Linked DNA regions of Homo sapiens: region 2 is linked to region 1. Evidence: fine-mapped QTL for protein levels in blood plasma. Region 1 holds a variant in brackets. A gene starts in the other region. All regions are shown on their forward strands.

Evidence for each region. PIP is the posterior inclusion probability: the model's chance that the variant is causal. The UK Biobank Pharma Proteomics Project read protein levels with antibody pairs (Olink). The fine-mapping took linkage between variants from a reference panel, not from the people measured, so its PIPs are less certain.
Region 2: PDGFC starts here. The variant in region 1 is fine-mapped to the plasma level of the PDGFC protein (UK Biobank, PIP above 0.99).

The regions. Positions count from the first base shown.
Region 1 is chr9:114,316,729-114,325,062 of GRCh38, forward strand. ORM1 (orosomucoid 1) reads left to right here and starts at 6,370. Exons shown (of 6, transcript NM_000607.4): 1 at 6,370-6,519; 2 at 6,935-7,077; 3 at 7,290-7,360; 4 at 8,062-8,169; 5 at 8,321-8,334. The coding sequence starts at 6,406. LOC105376224 (a long non-coding RNA gene) reads right to left here and starts at 1,715. Exons shown (of 3, transcript XR_930255.3): 1 at 1,466-1,715. RefSeq lists an enhancer at 1,141-1,435. The variant C/A (reference allele first, on the strand shown) is at 4,795.
Region 2 is chr4:156,968,517-156,976,850 of GRCh38, forward strand. It overlaps PDGFC (platelet derived growth factor C), which reads right to left and starts at 3,283. Exons shown (of 6, transcript NM_016205.3): 1 at 2,270-3,283. The coding sequence starts at 2,387. RefSeq lists an enhancer at 3,070-3,570.

The DNA of each region.
Region 1 (8,334 bases):
CTTTTCTCTCTCTTTTGTTCCTGCCTAACTTCTTTTGACATCCTGCCAGGGCCAGATGGAGGATAGGGCCAGACGAGCTAGAAGGACTACTTAAAGCCTCAGTCTTTAGAGGCATTCATGCATACCTGAAATGTTAGGAGACAGAGAAAATTGTACTGTGGTAGGGTAGGTGCCAGATGAGCTTGGAGGAATTACTTGGATAGTCTAAGGTGGAGAGTGAGACCCCCAAGCGGCAGCCTGAGGGACAGTGAGGACACTGAAGACCACTTACTCCTGCCAAGGAGAGGCACTCGGAAGCGCCTCTGTACTGCATTCACAGTGCACAGCTCCGCTTTGAATGGTGGTAGCTCTCCTTATTCACCCTTCCCCTACACAGGCTGCGCCTGGGATCTCTACACTCGAGCAGACGGAGACCCCAGACCCCATTGGCCTAAGTGCCTGAACGTTATAAATCAAAAGTATTTTAAATGAAGCTGACATGTTTACATTTAAGTTTTAGAAATTTAATTAATTATCCCAGCACTTTGGGAGGCTGAGGCGGGTGGATCACAAGGTCAGGAGATCGAGACCATCCTGGCTAACCCGGTGAAACCCTGTCTCTACTAAAAAAATACAAAAAAATATTAGCCGGGCATGGTGGCGGGCGCCTGTATTCCCAGCTACTCAGGAGGCTGAGGCAGGAGAATGGCGTGAACCCAGGAGGTGGAGCTTGCAGTGAGCTGAGATTGTGCCACTGCACTCCAGCCTGGGCAACAGAGCGAGACTCTGTCTCGAAAAAAAAAAAAAAAGAAATTTAATTAATTAATTAAATCATGTCCAAAAGATTTGTACAACTGAAAATTATTCACGAGGCTAGCATGCAGCCTCTACATGCCCATGTCAAGAACCAGATTCAATTGTCCTGATGCAGTGACTCACAACTGTAATCCCAGCACTTTGGGAGGTCGAGGCAGGCAGATCATTTGAGGTCAGGAGTTTGAGACGAGCCTGGCCAACATGATGAAACCCCGTCTGTACTAAAAATACAAAAATTAGCCAGGTGTGGTGGCAGGCGCCTGTAATCCCAGTTATTCAGGAGGCTGAGGCCGGAGAATTTCTTGAACCTGGGAGATGGAGGTTGCAGTAAGCCAAGATTGTGCCACTGCACTCCAACCTGGGTGACAGAGCCAGACTCTGTCTCAAGAAAATAAAGAGAAAAAGAACTAGATTCAGGCTGTATGTGGGCACCATCTACAGACATCAGACACACACATTTAGGAGTAATAATGATGCAATATTGCCAAATGTTTCTCAGCAACCATGTGCAACTGTTGCATGTACTGTTTATTTCTAACTCAGGAGGATCTCTCTAACCACACATTGCAAGAAAATAGACTTTCAGTGTTTCTGGCAAAACAAAGAGTTTTTTTGTTGGCATTTATGCTGAAAGGGAAGAGTTAAAATGTTAATTTGTCTTTTTTCTTACCTCCAAGTTCACTCAAATCCTCTCTTGAAGCAGTGTCTGTCTCCTATGTCTGCGGTGGCATCATCCACGAAGTATCAGGACATTTGACCTGTTGTTTTCAGAGTCGAGTGCCACATGTAGAGATTGTTTCCTGGGGCCTAAACAGTGTTGGTTGTGAAAGAGAATAATCAGTGATGTGGGTCCCACTGTGCCAGTACCAGGCACCAGATCCCAAAGGACAGAGGTGCTTATCTGTTATTTAATAAACTGTTGTGTGTGGGTGGGTGTGTGGGTGGGTGTGATATGTGGGGCTCTCTAAATCCCTGGGCCCCAATAGTCCAGGTCTAATGGTGGTGCTGTCCCCAACAATGCTCAGCTTCTCCTCAAAATACATGGTATCTGGGCTGGGCACGGTGGCTTACACCTGAAATCCCAGCACTTTGGAAGGCCGAGGCGGGTGGATCACTTGAGGTCAGGAGTTCAAGATCAGCCTGGCCAACATGGCGAAACCCTGTCCGTACCAAAAATACAAAAGAAATTAGCCAGGTGTGGTAGTGACACCTGTAATCCCAGCTACTAGGGAGGCTGGATAGGAGAATTGCTGGAACTCGGGAGGCGGAGGCTGCAGTGAACTGAGATCGTGCCACTGCACTCCAGCCTGGGCGACAGAGTGAAACCTTGTCTCAGATAGATAGATAGATAGATGATAGATAGATAGATAGATAGATAGATAGATAGATAGATGATAGATAGATGATAGATAGATTAGATAGATAGATAGATAGATAGATAGATAGAGATAGATGATAGATGATAGGTAGGTAGATAGATGATAGATAGATAGATAGATAGATAGATAGGTAGATAGATGATAGATAGATAGATGTTAGATAGATGAATGGTATCTGGAGTCTGTCCCCATCATCTCACCCCTGGACCACTGCATCAGCTCCAGCTGGTTTCTCAGGTTTAATCTCCTTCCCTAGCCCTCCCCATTCTTCCCATTCAGACAGAGCGATCTTTCTGAAGAACCAATCTGGTTATGCCTTTCCAACCCCTTTGAAATCTTTCCATTTCTCTCCTACACCTCCTAAGTCTAGCGAACCCCTCAGCCTGGCTTCCATGCCCTGCAGGCTCCATCTCCTGCCAACCTCTTCAACATAAAGTCTGGCCACTCCCACTTATCATGTGCTCCAGCTGCACAGACTTTCCAGCTCCCTGATACACCCACTCTCTCACCTGCGCTCTTCCCTCTTGATAACTCCAATCATTGTTTCAAGCCTCAAATTAGAGCAATGCAAATTCAAGAAACAAACCAAGCTGGCAAAAACACAAAAAAGAAAGGAAAAAAAAAGGGTCATTTCTGTTCTGACAAGGATGGGGATAAGGAGACTCACTTGTACACTGCCAAACTGACATTCAAAATCCTTAGTGCTTTTGGATTTGTCATGTTTGGGAGGAGGGTTTTTAAATCATCGGCTTTCTTGAGGTTGAATAAATAAAAGAAAATGCACACATTTTAGGTTTACTGTTCAATTAGTTTTTACAACTATACGTGTGTGTGTATAATGGCCACCACGATGACAACCTGGATCGTTGTCATCCACTTCAGTGTTCTCTCATATGCTTTTGCAGTCAAATTGCCCTCTTTTGCCCTTGGCAACCACTGATCTGATTTCTAAAATTATAGATTTGTTTGAGCTGTTCTAGAACAGAACCGTACAGTATATAAGCTCCTTTGTATCTGGCTTCTTTTGTTCAGCATAGTGTTTTTGAGATTCATCCATGGTGTTATATGTATCAATAGTTTAACTATTTTTATTGTTAAGTAATATTCCTTTGTAAGAAAATGCCACATTTTTATTTACCATTTTCCTGTTGATGGGCATTTGGATTGTTTCTTTCTTTTTTTTTGGTTTTTGTTTTTGCTTTTGTTTTTGTTTTTTAGACAGTCTTGCTCTGTCACCAGGCTGGAGTGCAGTGGCACGATCTCGGCTAACTGCAAGCTCCACCTCCCAGGTTTGAGCGATTCTCCTGCCTCAGCCTCCTGAGTAGCTGGTACTACAGGCGCATGCCACCACACTCAGCTAATTTTTGTATTTTTAGTAGAGACGGAGTTTCTCCATGTTGGCCAGGCTTGTCTCGATCTCTTGACCTTGTGATCCGCCCACCTCGGCCTCCCAAAGTGCTGGGATTACAGGCGTGAGCCGTGGTGCCCCACCCTTGGATTATTTCTAATTTTGGCTATTTTGAGCAATGCTGTTATGAACATTAATATGTAAGACTTTGTGCATAGCACGTGGTTTCCTTTCCCTTGGATACTAAGGTAATTTTAAAAGGGAAATTGGCTGCTCTCTGACACTTATCATCAGAGGAAAAATCACAATATGAAATGCTGTTAGATAGGCTGGGAGTGGTGGCTCACGCCTATAATCCAGCACTTTGGGAGGCTGAGGCAGGAGGATCACTTGAGGCCAGAAGTTCAAGACCAGTCTGGGCAACATAGTGAGACTCTGTCTCTACAATTTTTTGTTTTTTAAATTTAATTAGCCAAGTGTGGTGGTGCATGCCTGTAGTCCTAGCTACTCCAGAGGCTGAGGTGGGAGGATTGCTTGAGCCCAGGAGTTTGAGGCTGCAGTTGAGCTATGATTCATACCACTGCACTCCAACTTGAAGAGCCTGAAAAAAAAAAAAAAGTGCTGTAGACATAAAGGACATGACTAAGTAGGTTAGAATATAGTAAGCGGGCCAGGCGCCGTGGCTCATGCCTGTAATCCCAGTACTCTGGGAGGCCGAGGTGGGCAGATTGCTTAAGCTCAGGAGTTCGAGACCAACCTGGGCAACATGATGAGACCCCCATCTCTACAAAAGTACAAAAAGTTAGCCAGGTGTGGTGGCACGCACCTGTGGTCCTAGCTACTCGGGAGGCTGAGCTGGGAGGATCTCTTGAGCCTGGGTGGCAGAGGTTGCAGTGAGCCAAGATCCCACCACTACACTCCAGCCTGGGCGACAGAGTGAGATGCCATTTCAGAACAAAAACAAAAACAAAAAAAGAATAGAGTAAGTGAATGAAAAGTTGTGCATCCATTACACTTTTATTTATTTATTTATTTATTTATTTTTGAGACAGGGTCTCTTGCTCCATCATACAGGCTGGAGTGTAGTGGCAAAATCACAGCTTACTGCAGCTTTGAACTCCTGGGCTCAAGCAATCTTCCAGCCTCAGAGTCCAGAGTAGCTAGGCTTTCAGGTACATGGCACCAGACCTGGCTAATTTTTTTGTTTGTTTGTTTGTTTTCCTTGAGACGGAGTCTCACTCTGTCACCCAGGCTGGAGTGCAGTGGCGCCAT[C/A]TCAGCTCACTGCAAGCTCTGCCTCCCAGGTTCACGCCATTCTCCCATCTCAGCCTCCCAAGTAGCTGGGACTACAGGCGCCTGCCACCACGCCCAGCTAATTTTGTTTTTGTATTTTTAGTAGAGATGGGGTTTCACCATGTTAGCCAGGATGGTCTCCATCTCTTGACCTCATGATCCGCCCGCCTCAGCCTCCCAAAGTGCTGGGATTACAGGCGTGAGCCACCGCGCCTGGCCGACCTGGCTAATTTTTAAATATTTTTGTGTAAAGATAGGGTCTCACTATGTTGCCCAGGCTAGTCTTGAACTCCAGGACTCAGGTGACTCTCCCATCTTGGGTCCATTAAGCTTTTAACTACAAACTACACTGAAATATGAAAGTTATTCAGAATGAAATGAATAAGAATGCAAAATTATAATCATACCGTAAGAATACTTTCTGAGTAATCCCAGCACTTTGGGAGGCCGAGACGGGTGAGTCACCTGAGGTCGGGAGTTCCAGACCAGCCTGGCCAACATGGAGAAACCCCATCTCTACTGAAAATAACAACAACAAAAAAAATTAGCTGGGCGTTGTGGAGGGCACCAGTAATCCCAGCGACTCAGGAGGCTGAGGCAGGAGAATCGCTTGAACCCAGGAGGCACAGGTTGCAGTGAGCCGAGATTGAGCCATTGCACTCCAGCCTGGGGGACGGGAGTGAAACTCCGTATCAAAAAAAAAAAAAAATGAATACTTTCTGAAAGTATTTATTCATACAAATAAAGACTTGACCCGTGAGGTAGGAACACAAATGGGCCACGGAATCACTCATTCCACAGAATATACCGAGTGCCCTTGAAGTGCTGGGCACTGCTCCAGGATTGGGGGCGTATTGGTGAAAGAGAAGCAAGCTGCCTGCTCAGATGGCAGGGAATGGGGGAAAACAGGGAGACAGTTTCCTGTTTGAGATGTTGGGAGATGCTTCGAGTAGTATATTTACTGGAAATAGACATTCAACTTGGATGTCCCTTTTTGGAAATGTGCCTGCGTCCAGGGCTGGGTTGGGGCCCCAATGAACTTTGGCTCTGACACAGCTGTTGCCACACTCAGTGGAACTGAATCTATGTTTGTCTTCCCCGGCATCCTTCACCCCAACTCTCCCCGCCACAACATACATCCCATGCCAGCCTGGGGACCCTCAAAGGTGGCTTCATCATTAGGTTTGTGGCTGGGTCCCACTGAAGTAAGTCTTGGCACTCAGAGGGATAGGAATTGAATGAAGACATGAGATTCCTCTGCGGGAGGCCTCTCTAGGAAATCTGTGGACTCACACGTTTACTAATGTTGCTGCAGCCCCGCACCCACCTTGGCCTTGGGCAGCCATACTCTAGGGCTTTTGTAACCTCTCCATGTGAGGAACTCAAATTAGACCTGGGTTTGGAGGCGGTGCTCCGAGCTGGCCTTTGGGGGAGGTTTTGTGCGAGGCATTTCCCAAGTGCTGGCAGGATTGTGTCACAGACACAGAGTAAACTTTTGCTGGGCTCCAAGTGACCGCCCATAGTTTATTATAAAGGTGACTGCACCCTGCAGCCACCAGCACTGCCTGGCTCCACGTGCCTCCTGGTCTCAGTATGGCGCTGTCCTGGGTTCTTACAGTCCTGAGCCTCCTACCTCTGCTGGAAGCCCAGATCCCATTGTGTGCCAACCTAGTACCGGTGCCCATCACCAACGCCACCCTGGACCGGGTGAGTGCCTGGGCTAGCCCTGTCCTGAGCACATGGGCAGCTGCCTCCCTTCTCTGGGCTTCCCTTTCCCTGCTGGCTGTGGTCGGACCCCCACTCCCGGCTCTGCCTTTTTCTCTTCTGGGTCCCCAGGGTGAAATTCTCACCAGCCCAGGGGACTCTGGAGGCACCCCCTGCCTCCAAACACAGAAGCCTCACTGCAGAGTCCTTCACGGAGGACGGTTCTGTGCTGGGCCTGGAGGGGCTGCCTGGGGGGCAATGACTGATCCTCAGGGTGAGCTCCTGCATGCGCACTGCCCACCAGGGGCCTCATCTCCCCATCTGCAAAATCAGGGAGAGATCTGCCTGAGTCTCCTCCCAGCTGACAGTCAAAGATTCAGCATCAAGCCCCCATCACCAGCTCCCACCTTCTCCCCAGATCACTGGCAAGTGGTTTTATATCGCATCGGCCTTTCGAAACGAGGAGTACAATAAGTCGGTTCAGGAGATCCAAGCAACCTTCTTTTACTTCACCCCCAACAAGACAGAGGACACGATCTTTCTCAGAGAGTACCAGACCCGGTGAGAGCCCCCATTCCAATGCACCCCCATCTCAGCTTCTGGCCAGAAGACCTGAGCAAGTCCCTCCTTCTTCCTGGCCTTGGCCTTCCCATGGGTGGAACCGGGAGGGCTGGCTTTAATCTCCACCAGACTCTTGCCCCAGGACTGTGATGGGCGATTGGCCACTTCTCAATAATCTTCCTGTTTTCCTTCCGCCTTCTGTTTGGCTTTAGACAGGACCAGTGCATCTATAACACCACCTACCTGAATGTCCAGCGGGAAAATGGGACCATCTCCAGATACGGTGAGGGCCAGCCCTCAGGCAGGAGGGTTCACTGTGGGAACAGGGCAGGCCAGCATAAGGTGGGGGCTGGATGTAGAGCCCTGGAGGCTTTGGGCACAGAGAAATAACCACTAACATTTTTGAGCTCTAACGATGTGCTCAGAAACAACTCTAAGAGGACACTGAGAGAATTAGAGGAGGAAAAAGAAGAACAGAGACCTCAAATAGTTTCCCCAAGGTCACACAGCTTATAATTAGAACTAGAATTGGAACTCCAGGCTGGCTTCAGATCTGCCTCTCTCTCATGCCCTCTTTAAGATCCTTTGCAAACCAATGGTAGAAGCCTGTATGTTGGAGAGGTGGTACCTTCAACTATGTCCCCCATCACCGCAGAGGTGGCACATGGCAGGGAGCTGATGGAGCTGAACTGACACCATTTAGCATCCCGAGCCTCCTCTCTGGGCCTCATTTTCCTCATCTGTAAAACGGAGAAAGGCCCTGACAGCCACGGTCTGTGTGAGGCTCCTGAGATCTCATGTACAGAAAGTGCTTGGCGTGGAGCTGGGCATGCAGCAGGGGCTGGGCACACGGTGGCCCAAAGGAGCCCTGGGCCTTCACTGATGGGCTGTGTGGCCACTGACACACCTAGGCCTCCTCACCTGTAAGACAGACACCATTGTGCCATCCCATGTTCTCACCCAGAGGCTCCTTTTCTCTTCCAGTGGGAGGCCAAGAGCATTTCGCTCACTTGCTGATCCTCAGGGACACCAAGACCTACATGCTTGCTTTTGACGTGAACGATGAGAAGAACTGGGGGCTGTCTGTCTATGGTAGGCATGCTTAGCAGCCCCAAACTCATGCCCCTCTCAGGCCTCACCCCCCATTCACCCACCCCTGGGCTGGCCCCTAGAACCCCAGCCCTCCCTGGCCTCCCGCCGGGCCCCACCATGTCCCCAGTCAGTCTCCTTGCTCCCCCTGCAGCTGACAAGCCAGAG
Region 2 (8,334 bases), not on the chromosome of region 1:
GAAGTAGAAGTAGTAGTAGTAACGGTAATGGTAGTAGCTCTAACAAATCTGGTTACATTCCAGGGGAATCTTCTTCAGCACCCACCTGTTACCCTCAAATCTTGAAACATTTACGTATAAAAATCAACCTGAGCATGTGCAAGAAAATAGCTCTATATTGCCCCCTAGTGCTGGCCAGTGCCACTTCTCCTTGGGCTAAAAACTACAAGTAGTTCCTCTACTTCTAGTTACTTCCTGCTGCCATCCTTAACATAGACCAACCCCCAAACATAGCCTAATCCTCTACCCACAGATTAGGAAACAAGCAGCAATTTTTAGCATCATGCATCTTAGGAATGGAAATGGCCCAGCCTCAGATGGCAACAGAATGTGTGTGGCCTGGCTTAATGAACTCATCTCTCCTGGAGGTGTGAATCTACTTGGGTAAAGTGGCCTATGACCACATGCTGCATGACAGCTCTGGGACCCTTACAAAGTGATGATAGCATGGGGATCACAAGAGAGAACTAAAAGGAAAGGACAAAGAGAAGCACAGGTCAGCAAAGAGATTCGGGCAGATGCCAAGAGAGGCTTGATAAGACAAGGCAATAGGAGAAATGATATGGGACAGGAACAATAAAAAACAGAAGCCAGGAAGCCAGGAATATTGTGCATTGTTGTCATTATGGAGGAGCTTGGCTAGTAAGAAGCAATATTTTGAACTGGACATTTATTTTACATGAGAAAGAACAAAGGTTGGTCTGATGTGTTTCCTGCACGGGTACAGCTGGTGCTGTGGCTCCTTTGATCACTTTCCCCCAGACCTCTGCAGCTACTGTGATTAGAGATACATCCCTAGGCTGCCCTTTGATCAGCAGCTCAAGGAGCCTGCAGGTGCCATGTGGCATCACATTAGCAAGTTGTAAGAAGCACCACACTAATATTAGCTGATAAATGTGATACTATGTCTTGCTGCGCAACAGCAAATACAAATAACGTTTGCAAAAGTCGGCAGAATCCTTATTTTATCTACTTTTATACCCTAAAACTTTCTGTGCTTTCTTAAACATGAACACTTCATAGAGTTTAAATTCAAAGTTGAAGTCTTGAAACACCCCAATATGAAAAGGAAAAAAAATCACTCTGACTTAAAACTATAGCACATCCTATCTTAATTTTGTAGGTATGCCACTTGTGTTCATTTTGCATGGTTAATCAAGTGACAGAATCCTTGCATTCTGAATAGATGATATACAAAGCAGTAAAAACATGTATATTCCTTTTCAAATTACAGTAAGAGCCACCATTTGTAAACAGGGCGTTAAATATTCCAATTTTAGACAGCCTAACATGAACATTGTGGTTTCATGTGCAGTATAAAATTTCTATTTACAAAGTATTCTCAAAAATGACTTCATAATGGTAGATGAAGAGAAAAAGAGTTTAGAAATTGAATGATGTAAATCATATGGGTTCAGAGGCTAAGCAAATTACACACCCTGAAGCTGCCCTGGCTTTATGAAAGGAGCCTTTCTCCAGCTCTGTGCAATCCCAGCCCAAGGGAACTTGCATCTGAGAGTTTTCTAAACATTTCAGGTACACTTGAAAGCTGAAAGTAATTCTCATTTCCTATGCAGGATTAAGTCGTTTCCAGCACACACAAAATAGCAGTCATTCACCAACACATACAAAAACACACCACCAGAAAGGTAAGGACTTCAGAGTACAAAGGCAAGTTTAAAAAACAAAAACTAGGGAGCAAGAGAAATACACTTTTTAATTCCTCTAAAAACGACCACACAGCCTCTTGACCTCTATATTTCCTATCTACTCATTGATTAATTGATGACTTCGACCTAGAGTGCTTCAATTAATGCGGCTGATATATTTCCTGACCGACCCCCCTCGCCCTCCCCAAATCTGAGTAAAGTCAAACATGCCAAGGCTCATTCATTTTGGATTCGTTTTTAGAGGCAGTTCTTGAACTTCTAACTTTAGCAATGAGCGAACCTGCAATGTGCATTTGAAATGACGTTCACAATCGCTCCCAGAATGTCCTCACTCAGCAGTGGCACTCACGTTGCCCTCTTGGAGCTTTGTGGCAGCTCCCGAAGTTGCAAACTACACTTAACCTTTAACAGTCCATGCCAATGAACGCAGCGCACATTTGCATGTAATGAGAGACCAAAGATACCTTCACAGTCTGGTATATATCACATACCAACGCACAATGCCAACGTTAACACACACAGCGAGAAACAAGCAGGGGGAGAATGGGGGAAAGACTCACCGTTCTGTTCCTTGTTGCTGGAAAACTGGAATTTACTACTCAGGTTGGATTCCGCCTGAGTCCCCTGTCTCTGGCCGGCCAGGGCAGATGTCAGCAGGAGAAGCCCGAAGAGGCTCATTTGGCTGACTGGGGTGAGAGCTCACTCACGGCGGGCACTTTGGAAGCAGCGACTCCCGAGTCTCTTTCACCACCGCCAGGGGAAGGCTGCACTGGGGTGGAAGCGCCGAGCCTGCTCTGGCAGCAGAGAATCGCAGGGTAGTTTCCACATAATCCCATCCAAAACTTTTTCCTAGAGCCCTCTTCTGTGTCTCCAGTTTTTGAAAAGGATCAAAGCAAAACCTGGACCTGAACCAGTTTCCCAAGGTTTAAACAAATCCTGAGCTGTGGCGAAGTGGTGGGGGTGGGGGTGAAGGCGAGGGAGGAATGAGGGGGTGGGGACGCGGGGGAGCGGCGAGAAGTCCCCAGCAAGTTGCTGGGAGCACCTGTCAGTTCGGGGGACAGGACAGAGGCGAAAACTCAAGGGTTGCCCGCAGCCAGACTGGAAGCCAAGTCGGCGGCGAGCAGTTTCTGATCAATAACAAAGCTGCCAATAGATGCGGCTCTCCGGGCGCCCCTCTCCCCCGCCCCACCCCCCACCCCCGAAGGGGGAGGGGGAAGAAACAAGGCGAGGGCGCCGCGGCGGGTCCCACGGGCCGGGGCGCCGGAGCGGGGCCGGGGGGCTCCGGGCCGACGGCGGCCCGGGCGCAGGCGGAGAGAGGCCGCGGGGCTCCCGCTCCTCAGCCCGGAGCGCAGTTGGCCCCGGGTTCGGAGCGCCGCAGCACGGATTCCGGCACCTGGCTTGAGTTTTCCGCGACCAAAGTTCACCTTGTTCGGGCTCGTCCCCCGCTCCTCAAAGCCTGGGGCAATTCGGCCGCTCGGGGTCACCGCGGGGCTCCGGTTGTTCCCCGTCCCCTCCCCCCACGCCTCGGGCTCCGCGCTAACCTCGGGGCTACGCGCGGCGTCTCCGCACGGGGTGAAGAGGGAAGGCCGGGGCGGCCGGGAGGATCCGGCTTGTCCCCTCCCCTTCTCTACCTTCCCCCCGCCGGGCGGCAGACAGGAGGTGGGGGCCGTGGGCCGAGCCCGGGCGGAGCGCGCGCCTGGCGAGCGGGGGCGGCTCAGCGGCTCTCCCGCAGGCGGCCGATGGGGCGGGCGGGGGTCAGCGCCTCTGGGAGGGGCAGCCCTGGGACGCGTCCGCGCGAGCGGGCTTGGCCGCCCACTGGCTGTCAACAGGTGCTGCGCAGACAGGGGGTGCTGCGGGACTCGCTGTGGGCAAGACCCCGGTGGCCCAGGAGAGGAACGCGGCCAAGGCGGCCCCTGCTTTCCCTTCCACGGAACACCTCTAACCCCAAATACAGAGCACGATGGGTGGTGAAGGGTGCTGCAGAAGTAAGTGGGAAAGAACTTCCTGCAGCTCTCCTTCTCCCGCCCCCTGTCGCCTGACTTGTCATTAGTTTCCAGGAGGGCTCCCCACTCCCTAAGGTCTTTGCTAGGACCCTTGGCCAGAGTTTCAGAACAGAAGGAAGAAGGGAAATGAATTCAAAGGCTTTCCTCCAATTTCCAGCTCCGTAAAGCAGGACAAATAAAGCAAAAGTAAAGGCAGCCAAAATAACATCCATTTAACAAGTACTATATTTACTGAATGCCTACTATGTCGGGCACTGTTTAGAGGTTGGAGCCGTAGCAGTGAAAACAGACAAAAGTCCCTGCCCTCGTGAAGCATACGTAGTAGTTGGGCAGCATTAAGCTAATAGCAAGCTCTTCTGAGAATGGTGTCTAAGGGACTCAGAATGATCCTGCAACCTTGGACTTTCCTACAATACAGCCTCTAACAAAACTAGGCTGCCCTGAACCCCTGGTGATAGAATTGTTTACATTTACACCAAAAAGGTCGAGAAAGAACTGAAATCTCTTGTGGCTTGTGTTCAGGCTGACTTGGAGAGAGAGGCCGATGCTTTAAGACCTAAAGTTCTCATGAGGTAGTCTGAAATGAAACACACATGCCAAGCAGGGCTTATGGTGGTTCCATGTCTGCTAAATATGTCTGTGACAGGATCCAACGTGCTTTCTTTGTGGAGAAGCAGAAAATCATTGTCAATGTGTTAAAGGCACAAGCAGAGAGTCAGAAAAGTTGAATTTTAAAATGAAGCTATTTTTGAGTAATAATCAAAATGAAAACAAGGAAGTGCCATGGCAGGCAAATCAGCAATATCACCCAACTTCTTGTGGAAAAAAAGTCAATGCAAACAATTCGACCATCAAGAACACTTGGGCTGGAACAGAAAACCAAAATAGCAATGTCCCTGAAACTAAGGAGTGGCATTTGGGCAAGAACATATTCTTACTGGACCAAACCAGGGGCTGATCCTTCTTCAGTGGTGAGGAAAATGCCAAGCCCTCTTCTTATATGCGAACACCAACTGGGGCCAACCAACCAGACCTTTCTGCTTGGAATATCCTAGTCTTCTTGTTTTTCCCTTTTAGAAACCTTTGAAAACTTCACCCATCTGTCTCATTCTTGAAAATTTCACCCGCCTGTCTCATTCATTCATTCTTATCCCTTTACCACTTCTATCTACAGAGTACTAAATATACACTAAAGGCAAATAAGGCCTGATCTTTGACTTTAAGGCATTTACAGTTTAGTGGACAGAAGGTTTTTTATCAAGTATGGTATTTTATTCGAGTTAGCAGCTCCACAACACCAGTGTGACTCCATATTTGCATAATGTGTTCCAAAAATATTTTGTAAATTTGTGAGGGTGAAGGGTTATTCCCAATTTTAATAACATAATGGGACTTAAATAAAGGGCATGCCTTATGAATCCATTGTAATCTATTTTTCATAAAATTCATTATTCTCCAGTTTTTCTAATTTTGTAAGTTTAGTTTTCTAATCAGCACTTTTCTAAATGAAATTGTTATATGTCCATATAGTTGAGTTTCCTGACCACCCACATAGAGGTGGGGTGTGTGTGTGTGTGTGTGTGTGTGTGTGTGTGTGTGTGTCTGCAAATGTAATCCATTTGCTCTCAGGAGATTGGAAGGGTGATGACTACTCTTTATTTTGTATCATTTCATATTGGCTAGAATATTGCTTGGCACAGGGGGATAATAAATAAACACTCTTGACTGACTGACAGGTTTCTTTATTGGAGTCACTTACATTCTCCCTGGAATTTCAGTGCGATAGTTGTATTTGAAAAGTTACAGATGATCTAGAATAATACTCTACCTCTGCGTTTCACCTCATCCATATTCTACAGATTGATTTGACAATCGCCTTATAAATAAAGTCAGCCAGGTGTTCCTGAATGACCCCTAGACAAAATCACATCCACATTGGCCAATTTCCTTTCAATGTACTTGCATTGTCATTTCTTGAACTGCTCTTGCCCTTGACGTAGTTGATTCTTTTAACACATTATCCTCTGCCTGTCTTCCTGCTCTATTTTGCTTGTTAACCTTTTCTAGAAAAATGAAATCTTTGCATTGAAAGTAAATTTTATATAATCCAGAGTCTGTGCAATTACTAAACAATATATTTTAAATGAATATGGCTTTGTTTTGGCCAAAGGCATTTTCCTTGATGAAAGGCATCTGTTCCGCCAACCAAGAGAAAATAATTTCAGACATTCTTTGTGGTTTTCATGTTTTCTTAAACCTTAAGAAGGAGTGCCCATTGCTGCTGCATGCATGAAGAGTATTACCACAAATTCTTACTAAAGAATACACTTGGTGGTTAACAATGATAATTTGGGGGAGGGGGTGTCACTACTAAATGTTTTTAAGTGAAATAAGATTTTAAAGCAACCTACTCCTTTAGCTAGCCACTTAACACTCAAAGGGGCGGGAACCATGGGGACATATTTTTGCCACCAAAAAAAAAAATCTACGTTTTCTTGCTCTTTATTTTTCTGTTTTGATCCTAACACACACACACACGTGCATGCACACACACACAGAGGCATATGTGCAAAGTTATTTTAAGACTTTTCCTGGAACATTTCAGTATTTTAGTGGCAGATAATTGAGCATGATTTCCTGAAGTTCAGAAAGCTTTCTTCTACCTAAATACTCATTGTGTATTGAGAATGGCTGACAAGTAACAAATATATATATATATATATATATATATATATATATATATATATATATATATATATATGGCAGGACTGGAGATATCATTAGTAGTCAAAGTAAACGTCCACAGACCACAGCAGGAATAAAGACTGTGTTAGGAAAAAAAGAAATAAATAAATAAATGAAGTCAGTAGTCTGTCTTAGAGTCATCCTCTTCTCTTTCCACTTTTCCCACTACCTCATCTTGAGAAATACGACCTTGCTATCTCTAGGTTATGAAGATATATATCAATACTCTGTTTTTCCAACCAAGAAATGAGACACTTTTCATTACATTTTATTCTTCTAGCATCAGGTAACTTTTACCTCCCCAGTGTATCAGCTGCTAATCTGAGAAGGGTTTACCTGCTGAGGCTGAGGGTAGAGGGTTTTGCTAAGGCTCTGCTCTAGAAGAAGACACACTTTGTCAGTCTGACTTTCCTGGGGAATGGATCTGGAGGATGGGGAGTTAAGAGAAGTGTGACCTGCAGAAATGGACTTTAGTTGGCTCTCTGTGGCCTTTTCCTTTGAAGTAAAGCTGCTATTTCCTTATTGAAATCTAAGATTTTCCAAAATCTTAGAAGTGTTTGTCTGACTCTGAACTCAGAGGGAGTAACTAGCCAGAAACAGCCGTAAAGAAAGAGAAGCCCTAGTAACCTTTGAACCACCACAACAAAAGATCATTTCACTGGGAGATGGGAGGTCAGGGGCTTAGTCTGGCTTTACCACTAATAAACAGTACAACCTTGATCTAGAAATCTTCTCTGCCCCTCAGTTTCCTTTTCCTTACATGAGGAATCGCCACTGGCTTCTGTCTTGATCCCCCTACTGCTTTAGAAATTCTCTGAGCTATTATAGATAATGATGGCAAGACTTTTTCATCTTCAGTGTGCTTCTGTGATAAAAAATTACTAGCACAAGTTTCCTAGCCTCATATCAGAGATGTCTTCGTGGCTGGCAAAAGAGATAATGAACAGGTTCTTCTTTCTAAACTTGCTCAACTAGAGCAGTACTATTGTATCTGTTATTGCCATAGTTTGAAAAACCAAGCTCTAATGGTAATCAAAAAGAAGAGGGGACAGAGTTTGGAAATCACTGGCTAGGGCAAGTATACAGGAATATCATGGAATTCAAGGAAACCAAATAAATCCCCAGGCCTTCAATAGGTGCAGGTATTCATATTTTACTTTTCAATATTTGGTTGTTATCATGCTAACAGCCTCGAAAGAGGCAAAGTGCAGTCCTAAGCGGAGTGTCAAGGTAAAAAGAAATAGCTATTGTACATAACTGAGTTGTAAACACTAAGGAAATAATATTGTTGTTAGCCAAGAACAGATGGTCAAACTCATACTGTTCTATTGAGTCACACTGGTGGAATGTGAAACAATCTGGAGAGCAAGGGGTATCCCCTAAGAACATGGACAGCAACACTATCTTTGTCCATATCTTAGAGTCAATAAGGTGTCATTTTTCTCTCTCTTGAAATCATTTGTAGGATATGAAGGCTGTTGTCCCCATTGTGACAAATCATAGTAAAGAGGTCAAGACACAGCTACAGACCCTCCTTTCTCAGATAGTGACCTTCTTATTTCAAAGGTCATGGGAGAAGGAGCCTTTCACTTTGTGATCATTGTTTCAAATGCAGTCCTTTCCTTGGCTACTAGCCTTTGTAAAAGAGGTGGATAGTCTCAGCCCACTACTTAACAGTGAACATCAAAAAGTATTGCTGGCTGGCTAGAAGAAAGGAAAATATGGCTTAACTAATCTAATATTAAAAGTATCCTCAACTGCTTTTGAAGTTCAAGATAGATCAACAGACCCCCCTTTCTATTATGATTATTACTATTTGCTTTCCTTATCATCTTTGCAGTAATAAATCTGCTTGTTTTCTTTTAAAGCAGACTTGC